Regions from separate parts of the Homo sapiens genome. Here region 1 is linked to region 2. The links come from fine-mapping of genetic effects on gene expression. A gene starts in region 2. The other region holds a variant in brackets. All regions are shown on one strand. Distances are from middle to middle.

Evidence for each region. PIP is the estimated chance that this variant, and not a neighbour inherited with it, causes the effect.
Region 1: its variant is fine-mapped to the expression of PLEKHA1 in atrial appendage (GTEx, PIP 0.91).

What each region holds. Positions count from the first base shown.
Region 1 is chr10:122,400,182-122,416,185 of GRCh38, forward strand. It overlaps PLEKHA1 (pleckstrin homology domain containing A1), which reads left to right. Exons shown (of 12, transcript NM_001001974.4): 4 at 162-207; 5 at 6,395-6,492; 6 at 12,739-12,864; 7 at 15,678-15,821. Among named protein-coding and RNA genes, the nearest start is that of MIR3941, 8.8 kb to the right of the region's middle. The variant G/A (reference allele first, on the strand shown) is at 7,307.
Region 2 is chr10:122,366,607-122,382,610 of GRCh38, forward strand. It overlaps PLEKHA1 (pleckstrin homology domain containing A1), which reads left to right and starts at 8,102. Exons shown (of 12, transcript NM_001001974.4): 1 at 8,102-8,200. RefSeq lists an enhancer at 2,012-2,536 and silencers at 7,810-7,959, 8,100-8,209, 8,250-8,319, 8,340-8,499, 8,510-8,709.

The DNA.
Region 1 (16,004 bases), 34 kb after region 2:
TTAAATTTGCCATCCTCTTTTAGTTGTCTTTAATTTTAAGTCTGTTTACTAAATGTGTATGATTATTGGGGAATCATACATGTGGAAGTTTACATAGTATATAAGGTTGGTTTTAGGATTATATGGAGAAGTGAGGAACCCGTCTCTATTTTTCTTTTTAGGTTAGCGATGCTACTAAGCTAAGGCCAAAGGCGGAGTTCTGTTTTGGTAAGTAGCCATGTTATATATATTTTAAATAGACTGATATAATTGTATCATATTGTAAAAGAAAACTGTTGCAGAAAACCACACAAAACCTAGGGCTTAATGAATTATTCTAAAGTGAATTCCCTTGTAACTGCTATACAGATAAGGAAATAACATTTTGCACCCCCTCTCCCCTAACCCTGAAGCCTCTTTCCTGTGTGCGGTCCTAGTTACAAACATCTCCTTCTACCCATATGTAACTGTTATTTTGGCATTTATAATGATCACCTCCAGTGAGATTTCAGGGAATTTTAAACTTTCTACGTCATGTTATTCTATATTAAACATATAAATAATTAAAAGGATTTGGTCTTTAGCTTTTGGGTAGTGAGAAATGCTCAGTTTGGGGTAGGAGTAGTTGAGGGTATTGGATTAACTTACCCAGCAAATGTTTAGTATATGCCAGGCACTGTGCTTGGCACTGGAGCTGTAAGATGAATAAGAAACAGTTGCTGCCCTTAAGGCTGGTTGGCTCATAAATAAAAAATACCAGGCAATTAATATTGCAGTTGTCACAACCTGTAGATAAAGGGATATGCAGTCTATTAAAGCACAAAGAATGACCTTCAAATCTTTATTGGGGAGCTCAGGAGTCGGGGAGCCTCACTGGAGGAGGAGATGCTTACGTTGGTGGCCAGCTAGCCTCCTGCTTATATCCTTTACCACTGCAGAGAAAAGGCAGGAGGACTACATGCAGAGGCTTGTGGGGAGAAGAGCGTGGTGTCTCTGGAGCTGAACACTCTGAAGCTAGAGGGTATGATAAATGGCTAGAGAGTAAAAAGGCAGGCAGAAGCCAGGGTGCTGTGTTTTGACGAGCAATAGGTTTTATTACTTTGAACAAAGGAGAAGAAAAAGAGAGCATCTGGAAAGCAGACATAAGGTGAAGGAGGGTTTTGTTTGTTTGTTTGTTTTTTTGTATGCATAGGAAAGTTTTGATATAGGTAGACTGGGTAAGTGTCTTTTGAACTACTGTACTTATGTAAGGTCCTGAGTTAGGGTGGTGGCAATAGGAGAAGGAGGAAGGGTGAAAAGAAGGAAAAGTGCAGGGGCTTGGTGGATATGGGGGAATTGGAGGGAAGAGAGAGGTAGCAGGGAAGTTTGCTTCAAGTAAAGAAATGAGAAATCAGGGAGAGCTGGTTACATAGGGTAAAATGTTTGCTATGGAGTTGAAATGGTGGGGAACTTCCAAATGGAAATGTTCTGTTGACAGTAATCGAGGACTGGATGGAGCTTTAGGGTCAAGAATGGAGAAATTCGGAGTCTGTTGAAAAGTGGGTGGTAGTCGAAGCTAGGAGAATTGATACCCTCTCAGAGAGTATGTTAGTGGACATGAGTGACTGAAGGAACGAATATTTGGAGTGGTCAACTAACATCAAAAGAGACTTTCACATTAAAGTGAGAGATACTTTTGGGAGTAGAATTGAAGTTCTTTGCTCTCTTTTGCTTGAAAAGGGCAGATTTCTTTAGGCAGTAGTTAGGAATAGCATCTTGATATGAGCAAGATGAAACGTGGCTGTCAAGGGAATCCTCTAAAATGCTTTTATCTCACTATGAAGCTATTTTTAAAAGTTACATGTTTATTACTAATTATAATTTTGGTTACGAAACAGGAAAATGCCTCAGAGCCTTGTAATTGAATGGGTATTGCAAGTCAAATAACTGAGAACTTTGTATTTTAGAATGTATAATGCACATACTTTTGACAACCCTTTTTTTTCTAAAATCTCAAACTTACAGGAATAGTAACATACAGTAATAGACTTGACATTCATAGTTATTGGAGTATTTAGAATGGGTGATTTTAGTTGGAATCAAAAACTAAGATTAGTCGTTCATTGGTCAGGCAATAGTTTATTAGTCCTCTACTGTTAGTGGGAGTAAAGATTCATGAAATGCTTACCTTCAGAGAGAGAAGCACTGACTTCTAAAATAGAACCACAACTTTCATTCAAAGTGGCAACATATCTTCTCTCAGATTGTCCCAAACCAGTGAGAACAAGAAACGTGCAAGCCATTTTTGATGGAGGGAGCAGAGTATCTGTAACCCTCAGTGTATAAAGTTGGAAAGTAGATAGAGGAATGGTAGATAATTTAGCAGAGTGGAGGAAGAGGCCAATGAAAAGCTAACCATTTAAGTGTTCTGCCCCCACCCCAACTCTAGATAGGCTTAGGTATAGGAGATACATTTTCTGGGGAAGCAACAGTGAGGAAGGACCAAAAACAGGGACTTTGTTTGCATATCTGTATCAGAAACAACCTCTGTTCCCTACCTCCAATCGGGCAGACACCCTTCTTCTGTCCCAGCAGGTAATGGGATGTGTGGTGTCTCCAGAAATAGAATCAGTGAGGCTGTATATTTAGGGGCACTAGTCCCAGAGAACGAAAGGAATGAGGCACGAAACTGAAAATAGGAAGATATCTTAAATGAAAGTCTGCACAATCAGTGCAACCCCAGCCCCAGAGCACTGGGCAGCCAGGTTTAGGTGAGTAAGATCTGACTACCCTAGAGAAAAGATCCATAGATACTGACTGACATCTGGGCATTTCTACTAGAAGAGCTTGCCATAGTTGACTAGTAAGGTCCACAATCAACAGCCCTACGACAATGCAAGAGAGCTTTTCATCAGTCTTTTTAGCACTTTCTTTTAAAATATGAATAGACAGCCCAGGATTACTGAACATTTGATGAGAGCGGATTATCAAACAGGAGAAGGAACATGAGACAATGCAAAACTCATTTTGCATTTCTTTGAAAAAGTCAAAGAAATCTGAAAGTACAACAAAGGTAAAGATAGATAATGGAAAAGAGATAAAAACCATCAAGGAAGTCCAACATCTGATAGAGACTGAGAGGACAGAGGAAAGTACAGAATAGAGAAAACAGAGTGGGGAAAATTGACAAAGAATATGATAAAATACCTTAGAACCTCTTGATCCAAAACCGTATATTCATAACCAGTTGATCTCAGGTTGTGAGATGATTTTTGTTTGCAGTTAAGCTAATGTTTATGCTTCAAGTTTTATCCATTTTATGTATTCATTCTAATCATAAAGATTTGAAGTTAAATACTCAAGTGGAAAAGATAGGAAGGATACAAGCTTCTAGGGATGCATGTATTATTCACAATGAAACCCTTGCTTTAGGGTTTTTATGGCAACTTAGCAGTGTCAGAGTTTTTTTTTTTTTATTGTTCAAAGATTTTATTTCTTTCCCTTTCTCCCCTCACCACCAATATTGCTAATACACCACATTTCAGTAACTTGCTTTCCCCTTTTTTTTTCTTTTGAGATGGAGCCTCACTCCCCCAGGCCGGAATGCAATGGTGTAATCTTGGCTCACTGCAACCTCCACCTCCTGGGTTCAAGCGATTCTCCTGCCTTAGCCGCCCAAGTAGCTGGGATTACAGGTGCCCACCACCACGCCTGGCTAATTTTTGTATTTTGAGTAGAGACAGGGTTTCACCATGTTGGCCAGGCTTGTCTCGAACCCCTGACCTCAAGTGACTGGCCTGCCTTGGCCTCCCAAAATGCTGGGATTACAGGCGTGAGCCACTGTGCCCTGCTTTACATTTTTTATAGTGCTTCCTTACTCCTTAGAAATCTCCAGATGATGGCAGTGAAGAATATTCTATACCAAGCACTGTGTTAGTTTCTTTACATATATGATCGTCACCTCTTAAGGAGGTGGAATGAGTGACATTCCCATTTCACAGATGAGGAGTATCGGGCTCAGAGAAATTAAATAATGTTTAAAAGATGATATTGCTTGTAAGTGCATAAGCTAGTCAGGTTGGATTGATTCCAGACTGATTTTTTTTTTCTAGATCATACCTATATATCTACGTCTTGCCATGAAGTAATTCTTAAAGTACATGAGATTTTATTCAGATTGCAAGGTATACTAGGGGTCTTTTTTAGATATATATTTGCATCTCTTCCTTCCCTTAGAAAAGATCCTTATATATTTATTCAAAAGTATATGTATTAAGCATTTACTGTGTACCAAGTGTAGTATATTAGTAAGTGCATAGATTTTTAAATTCTTCAGATATTCTGGGCAGATGCCCAAAATAACATTGAGGGGAAGAAGCCATTATGAATGAGGAGAGCTCTGCTTCAGCCTAAGCTGAAAAAAGATTATAAAAGGAAGCCTTACCGATGGCTAGAAATTAAAAACAAGTTATTTATTGATAGATATAGCATCCTAGTGAATTATGGATTTATCTTAATACATATTTATGGCAGTTATAACTTTTCCAGTCTCTAGAAAGATGTACAAGAACAGATTTCCAGTGTGTTAAATTTCTTTTAAGGTTATAGACTGGTTGTTTTGTAGCACTTTACAAGATAGGCTTTGACTTCCTTTCTGAGACCTTCATCTCAATTCAAGGAAGCTGTAGTTTAGAGTGTTTTGGTCTCAGTCCCAATTTCAAAATCTTGTGTGTTTTCCTTGAGAGTTTGCATTTCCCCTTCTCAGTCACATTGAACTGTGTGCTAGTATATCTTTTAAAATTTTGGTGGAGACGTTTGGAAGTTATTTTTATATTTGAACAATTGCAACAGTATAACTATTCAGATACTTAGCTCCTAGAATAATATTTATGCTTTTAAAAATAAATGCAGATGGTGTATAATAAATAGCTTTAATTCAAGAGTGGACTATGATAGTTTATAGACAACTGTATGTGCACATGTGCTTTGCTTGATAAAAGTACCTAGTCCCTAAAGGGGAATATAGAAACTAAATTGCATAAAAGTTCCAAATGTATTAAGATTCAAAATATAAAGGAAATTCATAAGGTCTAGAAAAATAGATCTTAAGTTAGGGAGATTTTCTAGATGATATGAAATCTGGATGCATTTATAGAAAAGATTCATAGTATATTTCTGTCTGATCAAAAATACTGTTAAAGTAAAACAGACTGGGTAAAGTATTGGTAATAAAGCAGAAAAGATTAATAAAGAAGTTGCTATAAATTAATAATGAATTCAGGAGAAACGTGGGTAAAGAAAGTAAACAAAACTTACAAAATAAATGCAGATGGCCAATAAACTTACAAAACTAATTTATCTCAATAACCAAAGAAATTAAAATTTGAACAAGGTACAATTATTTACCAATTAGGTTGTTAAAGAGTATTAGCCAGGAAAACAGCACACTAGATATTTCAAACCTAAGGGATTTGTTATGGGGAATTGGTTACCCAAATATTGGAAGGCTGAAAGAACATGAAGGGAATGCTGAAGTAACCCAGGAATTAGACGCATGAAGCAACTACTACTCAAGGGCTAGAGAGACAAAAGAGAAGGGGTAGTAGTATTACTATAACCTAGGGCAGTGGAGTAGAAGCCACCATGGAGCTATTAGTATCCAAGGGGACTCTGCAAGGCTGGCATAGGGGGCAGGAAAAGGCTCCTAACAGTAGCTAGTTGTGTGCTGCTGTTGGAGAGAGGTCAACAACAGCAGGAGTCAAGGAGAGTCTCCTCTTTCCTTCTCCCCTCTCCCACCTTACAGTCTCTCATCAGTACCTCCCAGTGGCAGAGAATGGCCTCAGATGGGGTCTAGGAAATATTGTTTGCAGACTACCAGCCCCAGTGCCACAGAGCCTTTGAAAACTAGAAACTAGAGGTATCCACAGGTGCTAACAACCAGTTCTGGTGAGGGGTATTCGATGAAATAAAATGTGTATGTGGTTGGTAGGAATGTGAATGGATTCAACTTTGTGGGAAGATGATTTGGAAATACCTATAAAAAGTTTAAATGTCAATTGTCTTTGACCCAACAAATCTATGTCAAGAAATTTATCACCCAGAAATGCTAGCCAAGTGTGGAGAAATATATGTATATGATGTTTCATTGTGATATTTTATATAATTTCAAAAACCGGAAATAGCCTAAGTGTCTATCATTAGGGGATTGACTAAATGTATTGTGGTGTATCCATTTAATAAACAAAATGGCCATAACAAAATAAGAGTTTTACCTGTGTTATTGTGTGATAAAAGCTGTATTACATGTGGTCTGATATATTTTGTCAAATCCACGAGAGTCACGGTGTTGAACTTAGCAAGGTTTTTCAGCTACTGCAAACATAAATTTAGAGGTAATAAGTACAATATTTGGTGTGTTATTTTTTTCTGTCAACAGTTATGAATGCAGGAATGAGGAAGTACTTCCTACAAGCCAATGATCAGCAGGACCTAGTGGAATGGGTAAATGTGTTAAACAAAGCTATAAAAATTACAGTAAGTATATGTATTTTTTTGAAAAACGTTCGATGTCTGGAATTAATCTTTTCATTTTGAAAATACACCTACCAAATGTTCCCAGCTTACCAACAGGTTTCATACTCAAGCTTTGTTTAAAAGACAGGTGTTCAGAATGTGAATATGTTTTCTTGTACTTGGTGACTGTTGGCACTTTAATCAGCCCATGATTGTCTTTTTAACTTATGCACCTAATAAGGAGATATATTACTGCAGATCTTAATCACTTCTTGCAACGTTTCTAGGAGAAAATGCGCTTAGCACGTAGAGTTCTACCGGGAGGATATATATTTTTCTTCCAATATAGTGTAAGAGATTTCCTGTCACCTACCTGGGGAATAGGCACTTCTCTCTTCTAAGCCATGACTGGGATTGGGGTCAGATAGGGAAAGAGTTGAAAACAGGAGCAGGACAAGGGGAGATGAAGGCTGAAAAATGAGGGTTAGGGATAGGAATAGTGTCTGAAGGGTTGCGGCAGCCAGAGGGTCCTGTCCATGTGACCCTTGAGAAGTTTGTCTCAGGCTCTAAACTTCTTCCCATGTCTGATTTTTTTCCTTGCATTCCAGGGCTTGGTACCCTTGCCCTCCTTTCCCATGCTACAATTTCTTGCTTCTAATGTGTGCTTCTTTTCTTTTTTGGTTTCCTGATGAATATTTATTGATTATTAACACTGTGCCAGATCTTAGACCGAAGGTTTTACTTAAATGAACTGGAAAAGTGAGGCTTAGAAAGATTAATCTACCAGTGTTATAGCTGGTAGATTATGGAGCTGGAAGCCCAGTCCAGTTTTTTG[G/A]CCTCTGGAGCCCGAACTCTGAAGTGCAGTGCCTTACTGCTTCCTGAACAAGAACAGCCCTCTCCTTACTCTTTTGTTCCTAAAGCCAACAACAACCTTTACTGAGAGAGTTTGCTAGTGATGATGAGCAGCACGTAGATAGGCTCTATTTTGATTATACCTTGCCTCACCTTTCCCTTTACACTTTTGTAGAGAAATACATAGCAGGCCTGCCTGGAAAATGTTGGGAAGGAGTTCTTGTGTTGTGAGATTTGTGTCAATTGCGTTTTTGTTTTTGTTTTTTTTAAAGAAAGTGCAGTTATATACTGACCCTAAGTGACTTATTCTCAAAGAACATGTGCCCTGAAAGTCAGCATATGTTAGTCACTCATTAGTTTCCATCTAAAATGAATAATTTCCTATTTATATCACAACACAATAAAGAGTCAATATAGTTAAAGCTGTTCTCAGAGTTTAGTCGAATCTTTTTGTTTTGCTCTAGAACAGCTTGTTACCACATGACAGAAAACGCCTACGCACCGCATCTGATCTGTACATGAAGCAGAAGTTATTTTAGGTTTGTGCAGTGTCAGGAAAGCAATTTTTTAACCTGATTCAGACATACATATTCTTAAAAGCTTTTAGCTAATCATTTTAACTCTTCTAATAAATATTCCCTGCTTGAAAAATTTCTTTAGAAAGATAATATCTCGTAACTGTACTAAATTCATGTTTTACCATTTGCAATAACAAGCAGCACTGGTTTCTTAGTGCTTTAAGAGAAAAAGTAGTGAATGGTCTCAGGCTTTTTACCATTTTGGGGGGTCTTGAATTGCTATGTCTGATTTATCAATGGTATGAAACAGTCTTATACAAATGACACTGGTAAGCTTTTCAGCATGAAGGAAAAACAGGTTAGAGATTCTAAATAGAATTCTAAAAAGACTTCTAAGTAGCTTTTGTGGTCTTGCAATTTTATTTTACCTGTTGAAATTTTTATAGTTTTTAAGATAAATTTGTTGGTAAATGATTTTAATGTTTTTATAATTCACATTTGGAAAATATAAATACATAGAAGTTATAGAAATCCTTATTACTTAATAAAGTGGTTATAACTGCATTAAAGTGAGTATAGATTTGATAGTACTTATTAAAAATAAACTTTTGATAGACACACATTTAACTCATAGGATAGCAATGAAATAATTTCCTATGCTTTAATAAGATGCTTTATGTTAATTTTATTCCTTAAAAATATCTTACCAGTTTCATGTGCATTTTATACATTTAAGTGTATTAAAGTGTGGAATCTCCAATTTGTTATATTTTCCTGTGAACATTGCTGATGATTTACATGTAGATTATTTGAAAACTTAAAATGTACATTTTGATGTATGTACTTAATACATAAATCTTTCTATGGGATCACTCTCATTTTGGTCAACTCTAATTTAGTGGTCTGCTAAGTACTGTGTGATATATAAATTTTAAAATTTTGGAAATCCAAAATTAGAGTTTGGAAGTGTGTGGTTTCAAAATAGAGGTGGTTAGAGGGCAATGGGTAAGGGAATGATGATTTTTAAACTATTTCCTAGTTATAATATCTTGCCATTTTAATCCATTATCCTCTAACGCTATAGTCTGTGACTTTCCTTACTTGAGTCTAGGTGGGTGCCACTTGAAATTCTTTTCCCTTTACAGTTGCTTTTCAACTTATGATGGGGTTACATCCTTATAAACCTATTGTAAGTCAAAAACACAAGTTGAAAATCCATTTAATACCCCAACAAACCCACTTGTAAAGTTGAAAAATTGAACCATTGTAAGTCCTGGACCATCTGTATTAAACATACGCACAAAAAGGAAAAGAGCAACAGTGGGAGAATCAGCCCCGAAGGGGGAGTATCAATGACTGGAGTGAGGAAAATCAAATTTTAAAGTATGCTTTCCACTGTTCATTTATAGTGGAAATATATATAGTGGAAATATAGTGGAAACAACATAAATATGGTGGTTTCTGTTCCCTTATTGATTATTAAGGAATGTCTAAGATATATATGGTTTATTCCTGAACAGAGATCCATTATTTTTAAACATGTCTTTTTTAAAATTTAAAAATAAATGTTCGATTTGAATCTAAAAATTAGTACTTTGAATTTGTGGCAGAAACTCCACAAGTTTGATATATTTTTAATAGAAACTGGAAACAAGTAGATGTAGAATTCTCAGAAAGATTGTAAGACCCAGGAGTTTGTGTCTGCACGTTTTTATCCTCAGTGAATTGAACATTATGACAATTTCATTCTTTCTTTTTATCCTTTTTTTTTTTTTTGAGACAGAGTCTCGCTGTGTTGCCCAGGCTGGAGTACAGTGGTGCTATCCCAGCTCACTGCAGCCTCCGCCACCGGGGTTCAAGTGATTCTTGAGCCCTCAGCCTCCTAAGTAGCTGGGATTACAGGTGTGTGCCACCACAGCCAGCTAATTTTTGTACTTTTAGTAGAGACTGGGTTTCGCCATGTTGTCCAGGTTGGTTTTAAAACTCCTGGCCTCAAGTGATCCGCCCAGCTTGGCCTCCCAAAGTGCTGGGATTACAGGCGTGAGCCACCGCGCCTAGCCCAACATTATATTTTCATTCTTGGTGAATTGAATATCAACTTTCCCTTTAACTTTTGAGAAACCTGCAGCGTTTTTATGTATTTCACTCATAAATACTTAAATCTGTCTTGTTCATCTTTTTATTCTCTAGTTATTTTTACCTTTTCTTTTCCTACTATTAGAATTTCCTACTACTAGGATCACATGCAAATGCCTGCCAAGATTACATTCAGATCTCCTACAAAAAATGCTGGGACATAAAAAAGGATAGAAAGCCAAGGAAAGGGAGAGAGGCAGTAGACAAAGAAACCAAGTGGATTCAGTGTCTGACATGTGCCAACTGCCCAGTGAGATCACTTTTCTGATTTTCATTGGACAGTTGGATGGTTTGGGGCAGGGGTGTGTCCTGAAAATGTCTATCTTAATGGCTGAATTTAGACCAAGTTTTACAGAGGTACATATTGTTTTTAGAGGAGTTATCCATGTTCATGGGTATTTTGCTTGAACTTTTCTTGTTCTTAGGGAATAAGATGATTACAAGTTAGATAATTTTTATAGTAAAATGCAGTTCTAAGTTAACTACTAGCATTTGATTTTATTATAAAGACAAATTAGAAGCAGTGAGCTTAACAGCATAAGCAAGGACTTTTAATATACTGTAATTTAAGAAAAATGGAAAAACCAATATAAATTTCGGTATTTTTTAGAATGATTTTAAAGGTTTTTCCTAATAATTCCCAGGTCTGACTAAACTTCTTGAGAGAATAACTGCTAGTTTTCTTATGGGTCACCTCTTAGCAGCACCTCTCATTTTATCTAGTTGAATAGATTGTTTTCTCTCTGGTTTCAGGTTCTCTTAATGCTAGTTGCTGTTCTTCTCAATGAGATAACTGGGCCATATTTTCTCTGTCAGAATAATTGAAATATATGGTGCTATTCATTAGAAAATATAATGGGCTTCCCTAGCAAATCATTCCAGGGTATACTATCCTAATTTTATTTGACAAGGAAAATTCTCTTCATTATTTTATTGTCTTTAAAAAGCACTCCAAAGTGTGCAAGTTCTTAGAAGAATTCAAGAGGTATTCAGGATTCTCTTCTCTTTCCTGTTTTCTCTCTCTTTTGTTTCTGCGGATGAGGGCATTGTAGTATGAATACGAACCAGAGGCTGGAGGATTGGGCCTGGGGCCTGAGAGAAACCTCTTCAAGGGAGGCAGGTGGAGAAGGAAGGGAGAGGGAGTTTTAGAAGTCACTTAAGAGACAAGTCATTTATTATATCCATAAATTACATTTGTGTGGATTGGGACTTACTGTAGCTCAGCATCCTTTCATATACACATGGACCATGTTTGCTCAATATTTTGCAGAAAGCTGCTTTGCAAATCCTTATCTGCATTGTATACCCTCTTTTCTACAAATCTGGTGGGAGTAGCATCGTATGGAAGAAGAGCACAGGTTTTAGAGCAGTGTTTCTCAAAGTGTGGTTTATGAAACTCCTGCCTCAAAAATGTCTGGTGTTCTTGCTTAAAGTGCAGGTTTTTGGGCTGCACTATAGATATGTTGAGTCAGAATTTCTGGGTTCGAAGCAGGGGAATCTGAAGTTTTAAATAATGTTCCTGGGTGATACTTTATGCACTCTAAAGTTTGAGAAATCACACTGCTTTGGAATCACACTAATAAACGGTTTGAGCCTTTGAATACAATGTGAGTGGTGTCCTGTAGTTCTACCAGTACTCTATTAACAGGAATTAGCTATATGACAAGCAAACTATTTAAGTTAAATGTTTCTACACCACTACTTCAGTGATTGTCAGTAGTATTTGTCATAGTGTTTCTGAAAGACTGCAAGGTTCCACGTGCCCTTTAAATCATTGGAGAAGACTAAATCATGTTCAACATTATAATTGATGCTGAGCAGATTTTATTACATTTTATTCACAGCCTTAAAAATGTATAATTTAAATACAGACTATGTGCTAAACAGTCTACAGATAGAAATAATGATTAACTGAGTACCTTATTTACTGAATAGATCACATAAGAAAAGCAAAAATATATGTTAAAAATTTATGATACCTCTGATTCTTTCATCCACTTTAGTGAGGTGTTAATGTGAGATTCTGCTGTTACCACAGTCATTGTTTTCCTGTACTTGTGAACGATTTATCATTGATCCAAGTATTGGAATTCCTTCTTTAAATTTCTAATGAAAAGTTTTGTTTTGAAACTTCTGATTTGTTTTAAGAATTTTGCTATTCTTTTTTCTGCTGACTTTGGATTCATCCATTGAGTCTTTCAACATTTATTGAATACACTATGGTTTTGGTAATAGTCTCTGTCTTGAAGCCAGGAAAGACTGAATATGCCACAATCCCAGAATCATGGGTAGGAATGGAGAAAGGGAAGAAAACAGCAAAGAGCTGTAAGCCAATAGTAAGTGTGCCAATAAACAGGGTCTAGAGCACAGCAGTTGGGCTTGGAAGAGTTACACACACTTGGCTAGAATGTATTATAGTCAGGATCTGAATCTATATTCCCTAATGCCCCTGAGCCTATTTCCTTACCTCTTAGGTGGGGGTAGAGCCCCTATGCATAGGGTAGACAGGAGTAGTAAAGGAGAAAAATGTGTGAACTAGTACCTGCCCGAGTAAGCACTCATTACGTGATAGCTATATTATAAAATATTATTCTAACAGAAAAATTAGTGTGATAACTTAAGGAGTACATACATGGACTATAATTTTTATATGTATCTGTCAACCGTATGCAAACGGATGAATAATTAGAAATTCTGCGAGAAAACAGGTTCACATGTATAATGCTGGTTGCAAAATGATTCATTTTATTTACTATTTCAGGTACCAAAGCAGTCAGACTCACAGCCTAATTCTGATAACCTAAGTCGCCATGGTGAATGTGGGAAAAAGCAAGTGTCTTACAGAACTGATATTGTTGGTGGCGTACCCATCATTACTCCCACTCAGGTAATTAAGTAACTCTTCTATTGTGTGAGGGTCTAATTATTGTATATTGATTTTTATATTATTAAAACTAAAACAGTGCATCTTTGCTTAATTGGTATAATATACAATTACTATAAAATATTTTTGTTTATTTCAAAAGTATTTATTATAAAAAATTTGGAAATTACATAACATTTAAAACTTCTCATGATTTCTCTGAGCCTTTCTTCATGTACTTTTCACCTCAGAAATGGAGATATGAGTTGTATATTACATTTTGTAAACAGATTTTTTCACTTGTATCATGAACATTTTCCAAGTCATCAGAAATCCTTTTATATCATTTTTAATGAGTGCATAGTAGTTCTTCCATGGATTTACCATAAATTACAAATCCTCTATTGGACAAATAGAGTTCCTTTTCCTTTTTGTTTCTTTTACTTTATAAACAATGCTATGATGAATATTCTTAAAGGAGAAATTCCTAGAAATAAAATTGCTGAGTCAAGAGTTTGCAAGTAGTAATTTTTAAAATCTATTTTTTCTACAACCTGGCCTAAGTGAGCTAAACAGAAGACTGGAATTTTAACTAAGTTATATCTCAGAAGTACTAATATGCTAAATTAAGTCTTTATTTGAGTTTTAGGAAAAATATAAATTTACATACAATTTTTGATGAAATTAAAACTCTTGTCTGAGCTTGAATTTCTTGTTTTGCTATTGAAAAGGATGAATTTGTAATGGATATTAAGTTACTAGTAGTTGAGAAACCAAGAATTTTAAAGTAATCAATTGGTATTGCCAAGCTTGGGTATTTTCATTACCAGTGTGCCTTTTGAACTCAAAAGACTTTGACACTTTATAAATCTTTTAAATCAAATTGTATCATTCCCCACATTTTTCAGGTCTTTTGCTACGGGAGGGTGATTAGTGGGATTAGAAATCTTACAACATTAATTAATTAATTAACTATTGAGTGCTTTCTTTATGCTTGGCAAAGGGTATGTTAATGAACAGAAATTCCCTGCTGTCATAGAGCATACATTTTCCACCAAAGTTGGATAAAAAAATAAGCTAGGATTGTGTGTTTACTTTTTCCAAAAGTAATGATTTTAAACTGTTAACCTTCTGGTTACTATGTACCTAGATTAAGCTTCTTTCACTGGTATTATGACCTATGTTGACATAAGGGGTAAGACTATTTTCCTGTAGTTGTGTTAAGACACTGTATTAGTTTGTATCTGTGGCTGTTTTAATTTTGTCTAGAGTTAAGATTTTGTTGCATTGTAATTTTGGTATAGATATTTCAGTAGTTTCTAGGATTTTATGGAGGGTATAATTTTATTGCATCATTTATTTTGTAGTATAGTTTTAAAAATTATAAAATAATATATGTCTATCATAAAAGGCAAAAATTGGTAAATTGGACCTCATCAAAATAAAAAATACTTGCTCTATGAAAGACCTTCTTAAGAGGATGAAAAGAAAAGCTACAAACTGGGAGAAAATATTTGCAAACCACATGTCCAACAAAGGACTTTTATCTAGAACATAGAAAGAACTCAGAACCCAACAGTAAAAAGCCCAAGAAATCCAATTAGAAAATTCATGAACAGATATTTCATCAAAAGATAAAAGATAAACAGATGGTAAGTAAGCACATGAAAAGATGTTCACCATCATTAGCTAGCAGGGAAAAAATACAAATTAAGAGCACAATAAAAGATCACTGCACACCTCTCAGAATGGCTGAAATAAAAGTGACGACACAAATGCTGCCAAGGTTGAGGAGAAACATAATCTCTCAGGTGTTGCTGGTGGGAATGAAAATTAGCCACTCTGAAAAACAGTTTAGTGTTTATGTTTTGTTTTTTTTTTAATAATAAAAGTAAGCTTGTGATTACTGTACAACCCAGCATTTGCAGGACTAGGTGTTTATCGTAGAGAAAGGGAAAATTACATTCACATAAAAACTTGTGCATGAATGTTGATAGCAGCTTTTTTCCTAATAGCTAAAAGTGGGAAACAACTCAAATGTCCTTTAATGGGTGAACAGTTAAACAACTGGTCATCCATCCATACCATGGAAATATAGCAATAAAAAGGAATGAACTCTAGATACAAGGAACAGTCTGGACGAATCTCTAGAGAATTATGCTGAGTGAAAAAAGATAATCTCAAAAGATAACCTTCTGTATGCTTCCATTTACATTACATTTTCAAAATGTCAAAATTATAGTCTTGGAGAACAGATTAGTGGCTGCCAGGGGATTTAGGGGTAGGAACTCTAAAGTTCACAAAGGAGCCTTGGGGTGATGACCAATTCTGGGTCTTAAATGTGGTAGTAGTTACACAGATCTACACATGTGATAAAACTGCATAGAACTGTATAGACACACATAGATGAATGTATGTAAAACTGGTGGAATCCGAATAAAGTTTGTGGGTTGTGCCAATGTCCATTTCTTGTTTTTTGATAATGTTACGCCGTTTCCCTTTGAGGGGAAACTAGTGAAAGGGTACATAGGACCTGTTGTACTTTTTTTGGGCAGCTTCTGGTGAATCCTTATAATTATTTCAAAATAAAAAGTTAACTCCTTCCCCAAAAAAGAGCACTGGTGGCAGGACTTGTGCAAAACAAGAGGAATGGAAATTTGTGCTTTAATCAGTGACAGGAAAATTAAGAGTAAGTATCTCAGATTAATTAGAAAACTCTTCAAAAATCTGTTTCTGACTAATCTAAGGTGGATTTTAAGATTTTCTACTGGGATAATATGAAATAAAAGTATGCTAAACAAGCAAGAAAATAATTTATTTATTTTGCTTCATTTTAGAAAGAAGAAGTAAATGAATGTGGTGAAAGTATTGACAGAAATAATCTGAAACGGTCACAAAGCCATCTTCCTTACTTTACTCCTAAACCACCTCAAGATAGTGCGGTTATCAAAGCTGGATATTGTGTAAAACAAGGAGCAGTGGTGAGTAGCTTAACAAAATACATGAAATAATGAAAAAGGATTACGTTCTAGCAAACTCAAATTAACATGGAAATTGTTTGCTTTATTTTATGAAAGACCCAAAGTGAGAGACCGGCATGCTGAGGAGAGTCAGGAGATAAAATAGGGGATATTCTCTGTTTATAATTCAATGCTGTTATTTGC
Region 2 (16,004 bases):
CTCTTTCTATATGTCCACCAGTTTATTGCATATCAAGTATATCTCAATAAAGCTGTTTTCTTTTTTAAGGCAGGGAACCTGGAATAGCTGGGGTGTGGGGAACTCCAGGCAGTTGGGTTAGACTGAAACAAAGGGTCTGAAAGCTTAGAGGCCCAGGGAGAGTTGCGGCAAGGAGCTTGGATTTTATTCTGAGGCAATTGGGAGCCATTGAAGGCTTTTAAGCAGGATAATGGCTTTATCAGGTTTGTATGGGAAAATGATTTTTCTGGAGAGAGGCTGGTGAGGAGTCCAGGCACAGATGGGAGGACCTAGGAAAAGTGAGACAGAGAGGATTGATGGATTCAAAAGATGTTTAGGAGTCAGAATTGGCAGGACTTGGTCTCTCACTGGATATGGGGAAGGAAGACGGGAAGGAGTCAAAGGTGGTGATCAGGCTTCTGTATGGGTGACTAGGAACTGGCAGAACTGAGATGAGAACTCCTAAGGGGCTTGGCTTTGCCAGGTGCTACCCTCAGGATGCTGACTGCTGTCTCCAGGGCTTCTCCAGGTACTGACAGCAGCTTGGAGTTTCTCTGCTTTTGGGCTGTGGTGCTTCAGACCACCTACATGCTCTCCCTGGAGCCAGCCTGAGGGGCTTTGCCAATTCCTTCTGCTCCCTCTCAGTGGTGCTAAGATGCTAAAGTCATGCCCAGTTTCTGGCCCAGATCTGTCCTTGTTCTGACAGGAAGGCAGACAAATACTAAGCATCCAGGGAGAGGTATCATGGGAAGATTCCTGGACCAGGAGTGGGGAGCTCCGAGTTTGACTTTGACTCTTTCTCCTCTTATCTTCAGTTTCCTGTCTGTAAACAGAGGCAGATAATATCCTTGGGTCCCAGCCCTGGCTTTGCATTAGCATCATCTGAAGGTCTTTTAAAACTACTGATGCCACAGTGAGATTCCATTACACATCTACTAGAAAGGCTAAAATAAAAAGGTTGGCAGTATCAAATGCTGGTGAGAATTTGGAGCAACTGGAACTCTCATACACTGCTGGTGGGAGTAAAACTGGTGTACCAATCTGGAAAACAGTTTCACTGCTTCTTATAAAGCTAAATGTACTCTTACTATATAACCCAGCAACTCCACCCAATATCCAAGAGAAAAGAGTACAATTGTCCACCAAAGACTTGCATAAAAATGTTCATAGCAGCTTTATTCATAATAGCTCAAAACTGGAAATTCAAATGTCCGTCAACTGGAATATAGACAAATTGTGCTTTGTGTGCAAAAGAGAATATTACACAGCAATACAACACACATTGACGAGGATAAATTTTATAGACACAATGTTGAGCAAAAGAAGTTAGATCCAAAAGAGTATAATCCATACTGTGTAATGACAATTATATGAAGTTCAAGAACAGACAGAACTAATCTATGTAGCTAGAAATCAGAATAGTGGTTACCTCTGGCTTCCAGAGCTAGAGGAAGCCTTCTGGGGTGTTGAAATGTATCTTGCCCTGGATGATGGACACATAGTTTATTGAGCTTTATACTTAAGAGTTGTAGGCTTTACTATATTTAAGTTATACCTCAAAACAAAGCAAAAAGAAAAGAAGGAAAAAATAATAGTAATCCCAGTTTCTTGTGACCAGAGATTCAGATTGGGCTGGGGTAGGGTCTTAAGAATTTTTTTAAAGCACTCCCAGTAGTTCTAATGTGAAGCATATTCTAATGTGCGTGACACCCATGAGAGCAGTCCCTCTTAAAGACCTTCTTTCCCCAAGGATCCAGGACTTGGTGCAGGAGAAGTCTGCTGCTAGGCTTATCCTGGAATGTGCAGACTGCAGTTTCAGATAAGGAAATAGGTAGAAAGCTTTCTTTTATGTGAAGGAAGTTTTGCATGAAGTGCTGGTGCAGAGATGGCTGCTGGAGTCTCCAGCGTGGGAGCAGTCTGGCTCTGTCACCGTGCTGCCGCACTGGCTTCTCAGAGTCAGCCCCATGTGCACACCTGCACTGGCTGCCCTTGGCTGGGGACCAGGCTTGGCATCCCTTCTCAGCCCCTCGAAAGCCACGCCAAGGGGTCAGGAAAGCCGTGATTCGCATAACTTGCAATGGGACTGGGCAAATAATTGTGAATGGAATTCGTGCTTGTGACTTCTGGTTCTCACAGCTGCGGATGGGGGGGATCACCATGGGAATTCTGAGTATTGTTCAGCGCTGACTGCAGCTTCCATTGTTGGGCTCTGATTACAGCTTTTGTTTCACCATAAAGTACTGTTATTAAATGCCATTCAGGAACAAAGATGTACTTACATGCCAGGGGGTCAGGGAAGGCACGCTATTTCTAAAGCTGCCCCTGCTGTTAGTCTAAGGGCAGGTAGGTTGTAGGGGAAGGAGGGCAAGCTGGAGGTTTTAGATGAAAGTGAAATGTTTCTGAAGGAGCCAGACAAGATGGGAAATGATGATGTCATCACAGCCCTGCTCTAGTCTTCCCACGTCAGTTCATTTATACTTATTTATTTTTGGGCCAGGAGAGGGTGGGGGTCAGGTGCACAACCAAACATCTACTGCACATTAGAATCATTGGGAGTGCTTTTCAAAAGTCTTAGATTTGTGGGGAAACAAATTCAAGTGCCCCCTTAGCTTGGCGGCCTGAGCCCTTCCAAGTCAGGTCTCTGCTACGTCCCCAGCACCATATCCACACGGCCCTGTTCCCCCATTGCACCAAATTCCACGAGATCCTACACCACAATCCCATCCCAGTCACCCTCATATGAACAAGGACCACAGCAGTCAAAGTACTTTTAGAACCTACCCACTGCCCATGTAAGAGACTCTGAATGTATTATCGCCTTGGTCAGGTGGGCTCAGGGAATCAGGCCGAACTAAATCATAGAAATGCTGACACTGATGGAGCCACTAATACCTGCCAGACCTTTGTTGCATTATTTTATTTAGGACTAATGATGGGGCTGTGAAGTGGGAACTATTGCCAGAGAAATGAGGTAACATGTTTGAGGTCACCCAGCTAGTCAGGGCAGATGGACTCCAGGGCCCCAGCTTCTTACTTTCCTTTCCTGGGCTGGGGCCCATGACATCCAGACTCTCCTGGTGGAAGCAGTGACTTCTGTGCTTCTCTTCCTTTTTTTTTTTTTTTTTTTTTTTTTTTTTTGAGACGAAGTCTCACTCTGTTGCCCAGGCTGGAGTGCTGCAGTGAGGCGATCTCGGCTCACTGCAACCTCCGCCTCCCAGGTTCAAACGATTCTCTTGCTTCAGCCTCCTGAGTAGCTGGGATTACAGGTGCCCGCCACCACACCCAGCTAATTTTTATATTTTTAGTAGAGATGGGGTTTCATCATATTGGCCAGGCTGGTCTTGAACTCCTGACCTTGTGATCCGCCTGCATCTCGCTCTCAAAGTGCTGGAATTACAGGCGTGAGCCACTGTGCCCTGTCTGGTAAGGGGAAGGGGTCTGAGGGTACAATTCCCCCAGGCCAAGGAGCTTGTGAAGCCCAAGATGGACTTGTTCCCAGATCCTCTCTCCCAGCTTTGTTTGCAAGGAGTCTTCACCTTCTAGAATGCTCCCTACTTCAGTGCTGCAATTAGCAACCCAAGTGTGGCCCTGGATGATCATCTTGATTCAGAAAATCTTGTTTTTCAAGTTTTCACACCACATTGGAGCAAGAGTCCGTATGTTTGGATGACAGCAAGCATCCTGTGCTCTGCAATTTTAGGGTTTACCACCATCCCAGGCCTGCCACATGTGGTCAGGGTAATTAATGTATGACCTAACTAGGGTGTAGATGCAGCTGGAACCCACCAGACCCCCAGAGATCATAGGGTTGCTGGGGACCTTTAGAACTCCAGTGGCTTTCAGCAACTTTAGATCCTGTCCAACCCAGATGTTCAGTGTTGGGCTCCCTTCCTTGTCTGATAATCCTAAGGCAGGAAAGACCTAGTTCTGCTCTCTACAAGTCTTGGAGGCAAGCATCTCCCCGGATGCCCAGTTTTTTGTTTTTTGTTTTTTGTTTTTTTTCCTGTGTGGGCCTGGAATTTGGGCTGGTTGCTGACTTTTTCAGAAATCCTATTCTTCCACCTTGGTAAGCATAAAATGTGGACAATCTTTCGTGGCACCTTCCTGAAGGAGGATTGTTCTGCCCCAGCCCTGGGATGCAAGAATTAGCTCCAGAAGGAGACTCCAGTCACCTGATTGGTAATCTGGGAAGGTCACTTAATCTGTGCCTGCTTGGGGTGATTACTGAGAATCATGCTTCCCCTCACTTGGTCATTGCCAGTTGTGAGGCAGGGTCAGAAAGCCAGCTCCGACTCTTCACCCACAGAAGCAACTCCACTGACTCGCTGCCTGGAGTTCTTGTGCCATTTTTACACTAAAAAATAGGGAAAAGCCGTTTTTAACTCTCTGCTACCCAGTTTCTGGAGGGGACACAAAAAGAACAAAGCCGGGTTCAGAGAGTGTTCAGTTCATGTTTAATTCTTGTTCTATCTTGGTTCTGATTTCTGGTTAGAACAGAGGTTTGCTTCTGGAGGTACTCCTTCTGCTTGGCTTCTGATGCTGGCTCTGTCCATAAAGGGGACTGTGGCATTCATCATTCAACACATACTTCTGTTGTAGGCACTAAGGATACAAGCAGGAACAAAACATAAAATCCCTGGCCACGTGGAGGTTACAGTTTAGAGGGATATGCAGAAAAAAAAATATATATGCACATATATAATATGTACAAAAGTGACCATTGCTAAGGGGAAAAAGATAATGCAGGAAATGCTGCAGACATCAAATATTAGAGAGGTGACTAGCATTCAGGAGCTTTCTGCGTGCCTCTGTACGCTGCTTTTTGTGTTGTCAGAGGGGCTGACGTCTGTCTGGAAGCCCCAGAGCCCAGCACTAAGCATATGGAAGGGGCCCAAGAGCTATTTTTGAATGAAACATCAACGTACTTCACACGTGCAAAGCATGATGATAATGATGACAGTGATACTTTAAAGGTAAACTGCAGGCTGGGGCAGTGGCTCACACCTGTAATCCCAGAACTTTGGGAGGCTGAGGAGGGGGGTAGATCACTTGAGGTCAGGAGTTCGAGATCAGCCTGACCAACATGGAGAAACCCTGACTCTACTAAAAATACAAAAATTAGCCTGTCATGGTGGCAGGCACCTGTAATCCCAGCTACTTGGGAGGCTGAGGCAGGAGAATCACTTGAATTCAGAGGCAGCGGTTGCAGTGAGCTGGGATTGTGCCACCACACTCCAGCCTGGGCGACAGAGCGAGACTCTGTCCCTTCCGGCAGAAAAAAAAAAAAAAGTAAACAGCTAAACTATAGATCCTTGAATTCAGACTCCTCCTTTTTCTTCAGATGAAAAGTAGCCATGGAATATTCCAGCATTCCTCAGTGCCTTCAGTGAGTCCTGAGTGTTCTTGGTTTGCTCCCAGACTGTAATTTCCCTGTACTATTTTTTTTTTAAATAGCACTGAAAGCACTGTTATGTAATAAACCTCTGCATCCAAAAAAAAAGAGGCTGGAAGAAAAGCAGAGAGCTTTTTTTTTTTGTCTCTGTATTTATTGGCTGATCGGGAGCTATGAAGTTCTGGTTATACTGCAACCTCAAAGCAGTCCTGGGATTATCTTGTTGTGTGTCCTTGGGCAAACTGAGTTACTTTTCTGGCTTTCTTTACTGTATGTAAATATGGCTCTCAATGATAAACAGTTTTGGGGACTTGTTATGCAAAAAGAACAAAGGAGCAATTTTTTTTTCTTGAGTCCCGTTCTGTCCCCCAGGCTGGAGTAGAGTGGCACGATCTCAGCTCACTGCAACCTCCATCACGTGGGTTCAGTTGATTCTCCTGCCTCAGCCTCCCGAGTAGCTGGGACTACAGGTGCCCACCACCATGCCTGGCTAAGTAGAGGGGGTTTCACCATGTTGGCCAGGCTGGTCTCAAACTCCTGACCTCAAGTGATCCGCCCACCTTGGCCTCCCAAAGTGCTGGGATTACAAGCAGGAGCCATCACATTGGCCAAAGGAACAATTTCAAACCACTCATCAATGATGTCAAACAACATTTAGGAGAGAGATCCGGCGGGTCCAGCCTGGAGAGGGTGAGAGGCTCTTGGCCTAAGTGTTCTATTCTCAGGACCAGTATTTTCAGATCAAATAAAAGATGTGAATTTGACTTTGAATTTCAAATAAACAAATTTCCCATCTGGAATCTTCTAGGATTCTAGCACTGACAAGCTAGAGACTCCTTCCAGACCTTCTAGCCAGGGAAGGCAAACTCAAATGCCTACAGGGATAAGACAGGTGACACCTAGATTTTTATTTTTAAATGTTAACCACACATTCAGTTAAATCAACAAAAACCCACTGTGTGGACCAAAGGAAACAATCTGCTCTGGCTACTTTATAAACTATAGTGAGGCCAAACCCTTTCAACCATTATACAGATGAGGACCCCAAAAGGGACAGATGTCAGCAAGGCTGCATAGCTAAGGTTTCTCAAAAGATAACCAAAATATCACGTTGGATGAAAGGCAATTGAAAATGCTAAGTCTCAAAGAGGCAGTCAGAGAGCCGTTCTATGCAGTTTGCAAGATGTTTTCACCTCCATCAATTTATCAGACTCTGAGAACATTCTGCAAGGCAGGCAGGGTGGATGACACTCATTTACAGTCGAGGTCACTGAGGGTCAGAAGGGCAAAGTGTCACTCTCTGCATAAAGTCACATAGGTAAGTCTACACAGGAAAATCTAGGGCTGTTCTTCACTACACCTCTGATTCAGATAACAGGTAGGCTTCCTCTAAGATTTTAATAAAGACAAACTCAAAATCCTGTATGATGCCCCATGAAGAGAAACAAGTCAGGAGGCCAGGCTGAGCCCCCAGACTTCTAACCCAGTTCGCAAATAAAGAAAGTGGCAAAGTAGATAGATTCCAGCCTGTCACCAGGGTTGTGTCTTCTGTCCTAGCAGCTGTACAGCTTGTCTTACCACTGGACATTTGTTTCATGTACATTTTCACATAGGAAGGATATTCTAAAAGATGTTGATAAAGATTTTTTAAAGGGTTTGAAGGGGATAGGATGTGATCTAAGGTTGTGCAAGGAGAGGAAAGGAAGAAGCACACAAAAAGAACAAATATTTATTAAGAGCCTAGAGTGGCATGCGCTGTGAAAGGCGTGGCATGTAATTCTTTCCCAGTTCTTTGCCTGTCTGAATATTTCTCATTCTTCAGGTTTCAGCTCAGATATCACATCCTCAGAGAACTTGCCTTGCCACTCTCTCTGAAGAGCCTCCCCCCGTCCCCGCCACCGCTACTGTCTCTTGAACTTTCTCAGTCTGGCCATTCTATTAAAATCTGGAACGATTTTGCTAGTTTGCGGACGAGTTTCCCCCAAGCTGCAGGCTCCATAAGGGCAGTGACAGTGTCTCTTTCTCAGATGAATGCCGGGTTGCCTATCGCGTACTTGGCACACAGTTAAGTGCTCGAGAAATTGCTAAACACTCAACGAATATTTACCAGAATACATATTTATGCTCCACCGTTGCTGAAAGAATTTCGACTAACCCTTCTTTAAGTCTCTCTTACCCTCCTGTACTATTAACACCATTGTAAGTAGGCAGTGGAGCTACATTTGCAGGGAGAGAGAAGAGCGAAAAATTGGCGCGCAGAGCTGTAAAGCGTTTTTCTCCAGGTCACACCGCAGCCTGTAAATTTGTGACACTTGGACCGATTATGGGACAGCTTGCAAACAAATTATCTGCAAACTAACGAAGCCTATTTTTAAAGATCCCTGTTCCTCGCAGCTCTAGGCGATGACATCAGAGAACCCGGAGTTCTACCTCCGAGCCAAGCCCAGTGGTGGTCAAAAACTACGAATACCAGGAAGCACCGCGGCGCGGCGGCCCAGAGCTCCGCGCGCAGGCCTCCCCGGCGCGCCGAGGCCGCCGCCGCTGGAACCAGGAAGACGCCAGAAACTCGGCCCGCCACGCCGCAGGGACCCGCGCGGGGCCTGCCGGGACTCGTAGTCTCTGCGGGCTGGGAGCGCCCGCTCCGGAATCTCAGCCGCCGTCTGAGGGCTGAGGCAGCGTGGGGACGCGTGCGCAGTGCGCGGGCTGGCCGTCGCGGACGCCGCTCCGGGCAGCCGAGCCTCTGTGGGAGCCGGGGCCGCGGCGGCGCGGGTGCTCCGGGCCGAGGCCGCGGTAAAGTTTAGCTTGAAGAACGCGGCCGCGCTGGAGCAGGGGTGGTGGACGGGGCCAGGCGCGAGGTGGCGGCGGCTGCGGGGCTGCCGGGCTGCTGGAGCGCGGTTCCCGCTGTGGCGAGCGGGGAGGCGTCCGCAGAGGGGCGGTGGGTGCTGGTGAGTGCGGAGCCGGCGCCCCCTCTGCGCACGTCCGCGCCACGCGCCACAGCACCTGGAGGCCGCCGGGCCGGCTCACCTGCCCTGGCTTGGGGCAGCGGGAGGGGGCGGCGTCTTCTTCCCGTGGGTCCCCGATTGTTTTCCCGACGTCAGCCCTCAGCGGCGCCCGGCGGGGGAGGGCGGGAGGCCCGCGGCGGTCGCGGGGCCGACGAGCTCCTCGGCGTCTCCGCCCCCCGAGAAATCCCGCTCGGGGCGCGGTGCGCGCAGCTGCCCGGGGATTCCCGGTGGCGCCGGTCGGAGCGCCTCCCTCCAGGGCTGTGCCCGCGGGGCGCGCGTCCCCGGGCATCCTTTCCTGGTGTTTAATGCATTTTGGCTTCAGGACTTGCCGAGGCCGAAGCCGGCTCCGCCCTGGGCCCTGAAGTCGGGCGGTGTCCGCGATTTACCTCCGCACCTTCGGGGCAGGTGGCCAGAGGCAGCGTTGAAAGCGACTTGCCCAAGGTCACGCAGGTGGCACCGGGGAGGCGACCAGACCCAGGTCTTTCGACGCCGAGGCCAGCTGCCAACCGCAGAGCTTTGGGGCCGTCTTGAGTGGTTTGTGGTTTGTTTCAGATGCTTTCTATTGACCTCCTGGAAAGAGGGGAAAGTGTGTCATAATGAAAGCGGTCCTGTTGCTTATAGTGTTTACCGCCTTTGGTAGAATTCTGGTGAGGCTGTGCCCCCGCGCAGAGCATCTACCGTGGTCTGGGCGTATAAATAATGAAACTCCTTTGCTCTCTGGGGGCAGTACAAGAAGAGGTTCAAGGAACAAATAAATATCCAGGCAGTTTCTGCGTTTTCCTCGTCTGTTTGTTTCACCTTCCAATTCTGCAGTACTGGTTTTCTTATTTTACAATTGATCGTTGTTTTAATAAGATTTTCTTTGTTTTAATGAAGTCATTGCCCCTTGTGAGTTAGTTTTCTAAATAGAAAATCTTATTTCCTGTGTGTTTAATGACTGGAACAAATAGTGCACTATGAGGTTTACACCATTGTCTTTCATCTTAGAACTCCTGATCAATCTGCTTTATTTTCCCAAGTACTCAGCTTGCATACTTTCTATGTTAATTTGATGCCACTGAAACCATTTACAGCAAAGTTTGGGTAAGAGTTATGTGATTGTTTTGTGAAACTGTGTTTTTCTTCACAATCTGAAGAACTTGAAGACCCGTTATATTAAAATAATAAGATTTATTCTGATCAAAATACCTGTTTACTTTTCATGCTCTTAATTTTTCCTGTTGACACACTTGTGGCAAAAGAAATATTTCCCCTAGTGGAGTTAAAGTATTTTTTATCTTGGCCAATTTTCCCAAGGAAAATTGCATTTTAGAGTACTGATACATTTAAAAAAGAGTATTTAAGTTTGACAGAATTTGAATTAATAAAGTAGTTAATTTATTTTATACTGCCGTAAACCTTACACTGTATCTACTGACAGTTTTCTCTTGTAGCGTATACCTGTATCAAGATATATGGCTGTGAATTTAGTGACATTAAGAAGATATATATATATATATATATATATATATATATAATATAAATATATGTGTATACACACCGCGCGGGCGCGCGCAGAGCTTCCAATCTTTATCTTGTTAATTAGTATTTTCATTGTCGCTTTGGGAGGGGGGAAAGTAGCAGGTTTGTATCTTTTTTTCTCCCCAGTTTTAGCAGTGTAACAAAATAGGAAAGATGGTGTGTAAAATTGAGTTTGTCATAGACTAGGAGAGACAGTGAAACAGGATAAGTATACAATTGTGAGGAAACTGCCATGAGTTCATAAGCCGGAAGGACCTTTTTAGAAGTGTTTAAGGATGTTAAGAATAGCATTGGATTCTTTTCTTTAAAAGTCATTCAAGTATCGTTTGCTAACATATAGGATATGACAATATTGACCACTCCTAGGAAGATACTTGGGAAAGGTGGAAACATTTTACATTTTTATGGGGACTTCCCCCCACAAAAAACATTTAATGGAGATTTAAACAAAGTGGCTTTTTGACTTAAGCCTGGAAGTTCTTTATTATTATTAGTCATGCTGCAAATCCCGAAGTTATTTTAATTGTGTGATAATTTGTAACCCAGAATGAAATCTAATAAATAGTTTATTAATATAATTTAAGTCATACTTTGACATTGACATATTGCTTGATGTCAAGTCATTATTGTTTAAATAACTTATTTGAGAATGGGGAAGATAGTTTTCTGAATATAGTGTAGTAATTATTTGTGACAATAGTAACATTGCTTTTATTAGAAAATTTTGGGTTGATATAACTAACTGCCTTAAAGTATTTCCTATTTGATTCCAACTGTGAGCTGAGGTAATATGCAAATAATTACTTTTCTCATGCTGGAGCAGTTTACTTTTGTTAATATTAAAATTTAAATTTCAAGATTAAAAAATCTTGTTTTAGATCTGCAATGATACAATAAAATGACTTCAATAGGAGTTAAATATTAAGATTTGGTTTTAGGTTTTTTGACCATTTGTGAGTACACATCCAGCATTTAAGAATTTATTGACATGGTGTCTGAAAGGAATGCTTTCAGAAAGGGCAGAAAACTTGGTAGCTTTAGATGATTGTTTATAATGCTTAATTATTTTTAGAAACATAAAAATATGGGATGTTTTTATGTAAACATAAAGCATCCTGTTATTTGTTATAGCACTAGAACTCTCTTACACTTACTGAGCAATATTAAACCATTTGACCCTAAGTAACTTTTTTTCTTGTGGGTACTGTCTAATAAGGGATATGTGAGTTTGTGATTCCTAGAAGATGCTTAAGCAAACATATGTTTGCTATTTATTTTAGTAAGCCTTTTAATTAGTTGAATTGATAATATTCAGGAAGATAGGGTTTTTGGGATTTTATAAGCTTTCTTTGAACTGGAATTTCTGTTGGATATAAAAGAAAATTAGTCATTTAAGATTTTTTTAAGTTAAATAAGTTTTAGAGCAAAATATTGTTTCCTACATGGAACTCTTACCAGGCTTGTCAGTCTGATAGCTTTATTCTCCAGAAAGTTGTGGTTTTTAGCCCTTTAGGCAGCCTAGCCTTTTATGGTTTAACCATTGAACTCTAGATTCTGGATTGAATTTAACCTCTTGAAGGAAAAGACGATCACAGGCACTAGAATTGGAAGTGATGTCAGAGGGCTTCTAATGTAGCATCTTACCCGGTACAGTAAATCCCTCCTGAGAATTTCCATGTCAGGTGTTCCCTCCCATTATTAAGGATGAGAATGCTATTGCATATGTCATCAGGTTATTCAGCAGTCCAAGCTTACTGAGAACAAACACAAGAGTTTTAATGAGTTTTAATTTTCACTATTCACTGCCTTTAACTGTATTTTGTAGGCTCTTTCCCACCCCCCTGTCCCCCACCCCCCATAACATCATGGGTAAATGATAGCTTTTCTGTCATTTACAGTTATCAAAAAGCTCTAGGCTGGGCTCAGTGGCTCATGCCTGTAATCCCAGCACTTCAGAAAGCCGAGGTGGGAGGATAGCTTGAGCCCAGGAGTTTGAGACCAGCCTGGGCAACATGACGAAACCTTGTCTCTACAGAAAATAGAAAAATCAGCCGGGCGTGGTGGCATGTGCCTGTAGTCCCAGCTAGTTGGGAGGCTGTTGTAGGAGGATCCCTTGAGCCTGGGAGGCAGAGGTTCCAGTGAACAGAGACTGTGCTGTGGCACTCCAGCCTGGGTGACAGGAGAGTGAGACCCTGTCTCCAAAAAAAAAAAAAAAACAGAAAAACAAAAACAAAAAATTGCAGTCTATTCCAGTTTGAACATTCAATCTCATATATATTCAATTTAAAGGTTTTTTTTCCCTTCCTTACCCTGTGGTCAGGCCACTTACTTACTGAAGCACTTGGGGTATGGACGGCTTGTGGTAAGCTCCTGGGATACTTCTTTCCTTTCCCTCTTAAGGGATCTATTTGGATACAAATGTGTCAAGAAGAGAAGTAGAAAAAGACAAGTGTTTGTTATCTGGTGCTATTAGAGTCCTCTCTTGATTAACAGTGGCAGGCCATTGCAGTCTACTAATAGGCAACCAAACTGGCATTTTTGGTGAGATCTTGCAGGGAGACTCCTGCTGCACAGTTTCTGGGTATGAAATTTTCTGTAGCTAAACCTTTTCCAACCTACACACCCATCTGCTTGCTCCCATCCTGTCAGTTTACCCACTGGTTACGTGAATGTGTGTGAGTCGGGGTGGAGATCTTTTCTCTCTGCAGCGAGATATTTTGATAATGGCAAAACAACTTCAATCCAGGTACGCTGTGGTTTCTATTCAACCCACTGGAAACTCACTTCCTTGTGATGTCGAATAGTGGCATACAGACTACTTAAGTCTGCCTTCTTTCTGTGCCCTGCCATTTCTCATCAATTCTCTTTGTCCCCCTTTTCAAGTAGACACATGGGGTCAGTCACTCAGTCTGCTGCATAAGCAGATGTGGAACTGGAGAATGGGATGCAAGTCTGTTCTAGGCTCCTCTGATCTTCATGAGTGATTTCTGTTAGAGGCCCCTGCCACTGTTTTGGTGAAGACCTCCTTCTTTTCCCTGCGTTCTCCCTGAAGACTTACAGTTCTTTCCCTCTCTTCTGTCAACTGCTCTTGCAGAGTGGAAGGATGGTGCTGATTAGGGTGCCAGAGCCATGCCTGACTCTACAGATATTTGATCCTCTATGTCTATATATCCTCAGCTTTGTGTTTGTCAGTGATTGTGGGGCAACAGGACTAGTCCCACTCGACATGTTTTAACAAATAATAGTGAAGTCTTGTGGGCCTGTTGAGGTCTCACTGTACAGAATTTAATTTTTCTTTGCTTTTTCTTATATCACTCAGGCTGTTTCTGTGTTTTGCCTTATTTTTTGGCTTCCTGGTTCCTGACTGATGAGGTGTTAACTGTAATTATGTTAATTTATGACTGATTTGTAAGATCTAACTATACCTTAGAGTATGAGTAAAGCTGAAGGAGAAATTTGGGTTGGGAGGCATGTTAATAATATAATTGTGTCTGGTTTTGCCTCATGTAAGTTTCACTAAAAATATAAATTTAAGTGGAAATACAGTATTTGAAACTTTTTCCTTCCATTATTTAAATAAATCAGTTAAATCTGGTAAATGATTCTTGTCTGATGAGGAAGAAACAACTTTCTATCTGGAAACTTAACGTTAATCTTTGATGCAGTAATTATGGGTTACTTCATCCGTCGTTCAACAAATAGTTACTGAGGGTCTTGCATGTGACAGCCACTGTGTTAGGCATTGGAGAAACAACAGTAAATAACAAATCCCTGCTGTCATGGAGCCTACATTACAGTGTGGGGAAACAGACAAGAATCAGGTAAATAAGTAAACTGTATCATTCATTAGATAATCAATAAATGCTAAGGAGAAGAATAACATGGGGAACCAAGGTGGAAGTAGCAAAACGGTTTGGAGGATTTGCAATTTTAGATAAGATCTAAAAGGCAGTGTTCACTGAGAACGTGACTTTGAGTTACAAGTCCCCGAGTGGGAATCTTGTCTGGTGAGTCCAGCGGCCAAATGAATGAGTAAGGTGGGTATTGGGATGGGGTAACAGGGCAGACGAGGCTTAGTGGTCTTTATGAGGGCTTTGGTTTTTAGGTTTTTACTTTGAGTGAGATGGGATCCCATTGAAACAGGTTGTCAACCTTGGCCGAACATTAGAATGATTGGGGAAGCTTTAAAAAAGTACTGATGCCTGGATCCCATCCCAGAATTTCTGATTTAATTGGTCGGCGGTGGTGGGGGAGGTGGTGTTTTAACGTAGGCATCAGGAATTTTTAAAATTCCCAGGTAATTCTGATAAGTGGCCAAGGTTGACATCTATTGCACTGAAGAGTTTTGAGCAGAGTGAGGTATTACATAGTATTGAGGAGTGTGACTCTAGAGCCAGACTCCTCCAGTTTGACTCCTGGCACTGCCACTCCCAAGCATGTGACCTTGAGCAAGTGCCTTATTAGTTTTCTCATCTGTAAAATTGTTATAAGGATTAAATAAACTAATATTTAGGTATTTAGAAAAGTGCTTTGTGAGTAGTAATATGTGTACGTGTTTATTGAGTGAACACTTGAATAAATGTTTTAATGGGATCACTTTGACTGCCATGTTGAGAATAGATTGAAGTGGGGTAAGGGCCAGATCCAGGAGAGGCCCTTGGCAATAATCCAGGTGGGAGGTCATGGTCACTTGGACCAGAGAGGTAGCAAGTGGTGAGAAGTAGGATTCTGGTTATAATTTGAAGATGGAGATAACAGGATTTGCTGATGGATTGGACATGGGGTAGGATATGGTTTGGATTTGTGTCCCCACCCAAATCTCATGTCGAATTGTAATCCCCAGTGTTGGAGGAGGCGCCTGTTGGGAGGCGGTTGGTTCATGGGACAGACATCCCTACTTTCTGTTCTCATGATAGTGAGTGAGTTCTCCTGAGATCTGGTTGTTTAAAAGTGTGTACCTCTCTCTTCTCTCTTTCTTCCTCCTGCTCCTGCGATGTAAGAGGTAACTCCTCCCTCTTTGCCTTCCACCATGATTGTAAGTTTCTTGAGGCGTCCCCAGTCATGCCTCCTGTACAGACTGTGGAACTGTGAGCTAATTAAACCTCTTTTCTTTGTAAATTACCCAGCCTCAGGTAGTTCTTTATAGCAATGCAAGAACGGACTACCACAGGGTGAGAAAAACTTAAGTATGACTTCAAGATACTTTTCCTGAACAACTGGAAGAAGGGAGTGGCCCTTTACTGAGCTAGGGAAGGCTGGATCAGGATTCTGAGGGGAATATCTGGAGCTCAGTTTGTTAAGTTTGAGATAGCTTGTTAGATAAGTGGAACCGTAGAATAGGCAGTTGTATACATGGGTCTGGAGGTCAACAGTGTTCAAGGCTGGAGATAACAGTCTGGAAGTCATCAATATTTAGGCCTGTGAGAATGAGTAACCTCACCAAGACACTGAGTATATATAGGAAAGAGATCCACAGACCACCCTCTGGGATACTCCAACAATAGAGGTCTGGGAGATGAAATATTCCTTAGGGTTTCTTATGTACTCTAGAATGAAAGACAATTGTAATCGTTTCTTTTTTTAGAAAAAGCTTTATTGAGATAATTCACACTATATAAATCACTTATTTAAAATGTATGATTTAGTGCATTCACAGTTACGTGGACAACACCACAATCAATTTTAGAATATTAGTATCATCCCCAAAGAAACCCTGTACCCTCCTATCCTTAGACAACAACTCATTTCCCCTGTACCTAGGCAACTAGTAATCTACCTTCTAGCTTTATAGATTTGCCCATTCTGCATATTTCATGTCAGTGGAATCATACTATACTTGGTTTGTTTAGAGAGAAGTGGTATCCATTAGTACCTAGCTTCTAGATTCAATAGATACCAAGTTACTTGGTAAAGGTGGGGGCTATAAGATCTCTCCAATGTAAAGATACATTTCCTGTTTGCAATTAGTAACAAAACTGTGGGGTGATATTTTGAGACTATGAATATTCTGTTTCCTAACAGCATTTCATCTAGTGGTTTTAGTGTTCATTGAAGATGCTTGTGTAAATCAG